Linked DNA regions of Homo sapiens: region 1 is linked to region 2. Evidence: fine-mapped expression QTL. Tissue or cell type: whole blood. Region 2 holds a variant in brackets; the other region holds the start of a gene. All regions are shown on one strand. Distances are from middle to middle.

Evidence for each region. PIP is the estimated chance that this variant, and not a neighbour inherited with it, causes the effect.
Region 1: TMED8 starts here. The variant in region 2 is fine-mapped to the expression of TMED8 in whole blood (INTERVAL, PIP above 0.99).

The regions. Positions count from the first base shown.
Region 1 is chr14:77,375,597-77,378,353 of GRCh38, forward strand. TMED8 (transmembrane p24 trafficking protein family member 8) reads right to left here and starts at 1,498. Exons shown (of 6, transcript NM_213601.3): 1 at 1,340-1,498. The coding sequence starts at 1,457. It overlaps SAMD15 (sterile alpha motif domain containing 15), which reads left to right and starts at 1,783. Exons shown (of 3, transcript NM_001010860.4): 1 at 1,783-2,757. The coding sequence starts at 1,823. RefSeq lists a silencer at 1,076-1,505 and an enhancer at 1,556-1,765.
Region 2 is chr14:77,485,789-77,488,545 of GRCh38, forward strand. All of the region lies in intron 1 of ISM2 (isthmin 2), which reads right to left. Among named protein-coding and RNA genes, the nearest start is that of ISM2, 12 kb to the right of the region's middle. The variant C/G (reference allele first, on the strand shown) is at 1,059.

The DNA.
Region 1 (2,757 bases), 110 kb before region 2:
TTGTCAGGTGTTTTAAAGTAAAAGAATATAAAATCATGGGAAAGAGCTGGGTGAGTTGTGTGTGTGTTTGAATAAGGCAGCATTATGAGAGGGAAGATACTTGGGATCAGAGTAGAAGACAGAAAAAGGCACCATGTTGGAAGCCATACATCCAAGAACACCTCTGGCGGCACAGGAAGTTCAACTGAACAAAAAGAGACCTTACTGTCACAATGGTTGAGACGAGTATAGTGTGTACCATGGACTATACCCCAAATGCCTTAGACAAAGCAGCTCAAGTAATCCTCACAATAATCCTATGAGGCAGATATTTTTAGTAATCACATTTTACAGATGAGGAAACTGACGTTTCAGACTCCAATCCAGGCACCCTGGCTCCACAGTAGTGCCTCAACCATTATACTTTATGGTGTCTATTTTAATTTCAGACCTAGAAAATTAATTTATATTTGCTACTTAAATAAGACAAGTTCTCTCCCCTCTACCCTTTCGTATTTCAAAAGAGCATCCTTTCAGTTGCATCGTGTGTGGTGTTCAGGAGGCTGAAAGAAGAAAGTGTGATGGATGGACTCTTTTGTCTTTGGACACTGAAATAATACACACGGAGGAACTCGCGTTAGTAGAAATGGAGACGTCGTCCTGGACAAGAAGAGGATGAGGGTCTTGAGAATGAGGGAGGTAGGCCAAATTTTTAATTCCTGCTCTTGCTTTGGCTACTGTGTTCAAGCAAAAGACCCCAGACACTACCTATTTCAACTCTGCTTTTCATTTTTCCCACTCTAAGCGATGGAGAGGATGGCAGCAAGGCCAGGGGGCCTATGTGCAGGAAGGCTAGGGCGCAGTGGGCTTCTGGCAGAGGAAGGCAAGGCTGCCAACCCGGGTGGGGGCCGAGAGGCGCGTGGTAAGGCTGGGGCAGGGGACTGAGATGGGGATAGGGTGGGGAGCCAGAAGCAGGGGGCGGCGAGGCCAGTAGGGTTCGGGTCGGCAGTCTAGATGTGATTAGCAGACGGAGGTGGGACCCGAACCCCGGCTGAAGCTGAAACTGAAGCTGAAGAGGCGCCAGGGGCAGAGCCACCCTGTCACTACCATTTGGGCAGATCTCAGAAAGGAAGCGGGGCAGGAATCAAGGCATTTCGAAACAGGAGTGAGTAGAAAATAACCTCGAGCCCAGGGCCCGGGTGGTGGCAGCGGCGGGGAAGGGGCCCCGCGCGCGAAGGGGCTGCCGAGGTGGGTCCGCTCCGCGGGGAAGCCCAGGACAGAGCGCGGCGGAGGCTCGCGCCGTGGTGCGGGGCCCTGAGGCCGGGCGGCACCCACCCGCCAGCGCCCCGGCCTTGCGTACCTGAGGCGGCCGCCTGGCTCCCCTCCACTCCCTGGCAGTCCCCGACGCCGCCAGCCGACCCTGGGCGGGCTGTGGGGCTCCAGGAGCCCGGCCCCTCAGCCGCCTGCAGGTCAGACATCTGCAGCCCGCGCACGGAGCTCTCCGCTGCCAGCCGCGAGTGGCTCCGGAAACAGCCGAAGGCCGAGCGAGCGCCGAGCACAGCCGAGCGCAGCCTGCAGGCCGGAAGAAGCGGCGCGGCGGCCGCTTGAAAAGCTAGCTGACCCAGGGGCGGCCACAGGAGCTCTGGCCCGCTGAGGCTGGCGATGAGGCCGCAGGGAGGGTTACTGCGTGCTTGTGACAGACGATTTTTAAAGTCAGGGCTTGAAAGAACAAACAAAACCTGGGGAAGAGTCAGGAAGACACTGCCGGAAATCGTGGTATCCATAGAGACGCTATCGGAAGTTGGGGTTGCTAGGAAGCCGCGGCGCGTCTGCTAAGCTGCAAATGGCTGAAGTCCCGGAGGATTATGATTCCGGCCCAGATGAAGATGGAGAGCTGGAGCCTGAGAGGCCTGAACTGCCTGGACTTCATAAATTGTATGAAAATGCCGAACCAGACACCATGGCAAAGGCAGACTCGAAGCTACCAGCAGAGATTTACCAAGAGCCACAGCCAGAGACCGAGGAAGAGGACTTCAAAGAGGGGGAGCCAGACAGTGCTAAGAACGTGCAGCTGAAACCTGGCGGGACGTCCCAGGAAGGAATTGCCAAGGAGTCCAAGAGAGACGTACCAAGCGAAACTGAACCAGGGATACACCAAGAGGTAAAGTCGGAAACATCCAGAGAGATGGGAGAGTTTTTCAAAGATTTGGAGGCCCCTATGGATGAAACGCATAAAGAGTCAGACCTAGAGCCACCAGAGGAGGCTAAACCAAATGTTACAGAGGATGTGTTCCTAGAGTCAGCTATGGAAACAGATCCAGATCCAGTGCCACCAACGGAAACCATGTCTGAGGTTTCGGGGGCCACAGTCAGAGAGAGAAATTTAGAATTACTAGAGGAGGAGACTGAACCGGGGGTTCCAGAGGAATCACTTAGAGTGCAACATGAAGAGACAGGTCTAGAGCCTCCAGAGCAGACCAAACAAGATTTTCCAAGTGAGAAACTAGGAGAATCACTTGAAGAGACAGATCTTCAGCCACCAAAGATGACCAAACCAGAGACTCCAGAGGAGACACAAAGAGAGTCAACTGAGAAGAAAAGGACAGAGCCACCCGAGCAGGCTAGACTGGAATTTCTGGAGAAGGAACCAAGAAAGTCTAGTGAGGAGGCAGGTCTAGAGCCTCCAGAAGAGACTCAACCAGAGGTTCCAGAGGAGATGCAAAGAAAGGCAACTGAGGAGAAAGGGACAGAACTACCTGAGCGGACTAAACCAGACTT
Region 2 (2,757 bases):
TGCCACCCCTCCCGTCTCATACCTGGGCAGTATGGTATGGCTGACAAACACTGGTTGTGAGAGTCAGATAAGCTTGGGTTCAAATCCCATCTCTGCCTCTTACTAACTTCTTCAACTTGACAATATCCTCGTCTGCAGAATGAAGATAATCATTCTTCCCTGCAAGGACTGTGAGAATTTTATTTATCAAACATTTCCACAGCATTTACTGCACACCAGGCACTATTCTAAACACTTCATCACTCATTTCATCCTCCCTGTCTTACATCCTCATTGTCATGCCTGTCTTACAGTGGAAACTAAGGCACAGAGAGGGCAAGTAACCTGCCTGAGGTTGCACAGACATTTAGCGATAAAGCCAGGATTTAAACCAGGCAGTCTGGGCCTAGAGCCCATTCTCTTAACCTGCAAGCTATAAAGTGATAGTATTGTATCCCCTTCAAAAATCAGGGGCTTAATCAGCCTAGTTTCTCACTCTTACTTTTTTTTCTTGAAAGTTTGGAAACAGATTCAGAATCTTCTGTCTCTCCCTCTTTGACCTCCCCTTCTGCGGTGTCCAAACACCTGGCTCCAGGGCTCCTGCACTAAACGCCTGGTCCCAGGGCAGCCGTGGGCCCATCTCGGCCCCAGCCTGGAGTCTCTTGCTGAGTCAAAGCCCTCTAGTCTAGACAGCAGGGTGGATGAGTGGAAGGTGGAAGGGTGAGTAATGGAACAACTCAGCCCCTTCACTGACCAATGAGGGAGGCCTGGAGCATCCCTAAGTGCTGGCTTCCTAGCAGCTCCCACCCACAATTCCACCAAAGCCCTAACTGTGCCTGTGACTTTGCTCAGCATCTCCACTGTCTGCAGTCTCTGGGGCATAGAGACAGGCAGTCTCGGAGCAGCAGGTGTTCAGGGCTGTGCAGCCTTTTGGCTGATTGGGATACCCTAGCCTGGTGGTGGCTGGGCCTGCCTGGGCAGGTGGTACAGTGGTTATGCAGTGGTTCTCATCTGGGGACATGTGGCACTGCCTGGAGAAATTTGTGATTGTCACAGCTAGAGGAGGTTTCTACTAGTAT[C/G]TAGTAGGCACAGGCCAGGAATGCTGCCACATAGCCTGCAGTGCACAAGGCCATCCCACAAGAATCATCCAACCCACATGTGAATAGTGCTGTAGTTAAGAAAGCATGCTCTAGGCCAGGCACGGTGGCTCACGCCTGTAATCCTAGCACTTTGGGAGGCTGAGGCGGGTGGATCACTTGAGGTCGGGAGTTTGAGACCAGCCTGGCCAACATGGTGAAATCCTGTCCCTACTAAAAATACAAAAAAAATTAGCTGGGCATGGTGGCAGGTGCCTGTAGTCCCAGCTACTCGGGAGGCTGAGGCAGGAGAATCGCTTGAACTGAGGCAGCAGAAGTTGCAGTGAGCCAAGATCGCATCATTGCACTCCAGCCTGGGCAACAGAGTGAGAATCCATCTTAAATAAATAAATAAATAAATAAATAAATAAATAAATAATAAAAAGAAAAGAAAAGCAAGCATGCTGTAGATTGGGCTGCCTGGTCTGAGTTCTGCTGGCAGCCTGGCTTCTAACCTGTGGGGCCCTAGCAGGAGAGAAGCCTCTGTGAGCTTCTTCATCTGCAAAATGGGAATGACAACAGGACTAAGCCTAGCCCAGGCCCTGCTACCCAGTAGGTGCTCAAAATGTTCCTTTCCAGACCTCTCTACCCACTCCTCTCCCTGGTGCCCAGTCAGACCATAGGGTGGGCAAAGGCCAGAGAGGTTCTGGCCAAGTGTCACAGCCACACGTGCCGCCTTTCCTCTCTGGAGCTGCTCTTGGGAGTCTCCCTCTCTGTACGTCAGCCCTTGCGGAACTCCTGGGAGTGGAAAGAGATGTGGGGAACGTCTCATCTTAGTTTGGGTTCTCTTGAAGCCTACCCCAAGACAAGGGTTCCAGTGTAGGTGGTTCCACTGGGAGGTGGCCCCAGGAGATGCCAGAAGAGGGTAGGGGAGCGAGACAGGGAAGGGGAGGCGGCAGTCAAGGATGCAGTCAAGCAGCAACCATGATGGGCACCTGCAGCCAATCCCCCTGGGCTCCTCCGATACCCCTCGAGCAGGGACAGAGCTGGGGATTTATCTGCCAACTCCACCAGTCCTGGTTAAAGGCTCTGGGGCTAGAAGGGAGGATTTGCTCTCCAGGCACTTCAAGTGAGCCACGTACATCTCCCAGAAGGGCTGAGGGGATCAGGGCCGGGCACCCAGAGGCCCAGCCCATAGCCAACCTCTGGACACATCTTACACACCAGGCCTTCCTAGGCAATTTCCATGCCATCTGTCACTTTTTCCAACTCAAAGGTAAGTTCTGTGCAGACAGGAATTGTGTCTGCTTTGTTCACTGTGGGATACTGTGCTGAGCACAGTGCCTGATACATTATAGGAGCCCGATAAATCACTGCCACGTAAACAAATGAACACCAGCAACCCTGAGGGGCGAGCGTGATCACCTTTATGTTAAAGATGAGGCTATGGAGGCTCAGGGAGGGTAGGGACTTATGTAAGGTCTTAAAGGTTACAATAAGAGAACTGGGATTCAGCTCAGCCCAGCCTGATCTCAACACCTGCGCACTGGTGCACACTATGCACGTGTGGACAGACACTGGTGACAGTAACCCCTTGTGGGCCACCACCTTCTGTCTTCACAGAGCAGTTCCACTTTCATCTCAGCTGAATGTGGTGGAAATGAGTTCAGGCTGGAGTCCACATGACCGGGGTTCAATCCCA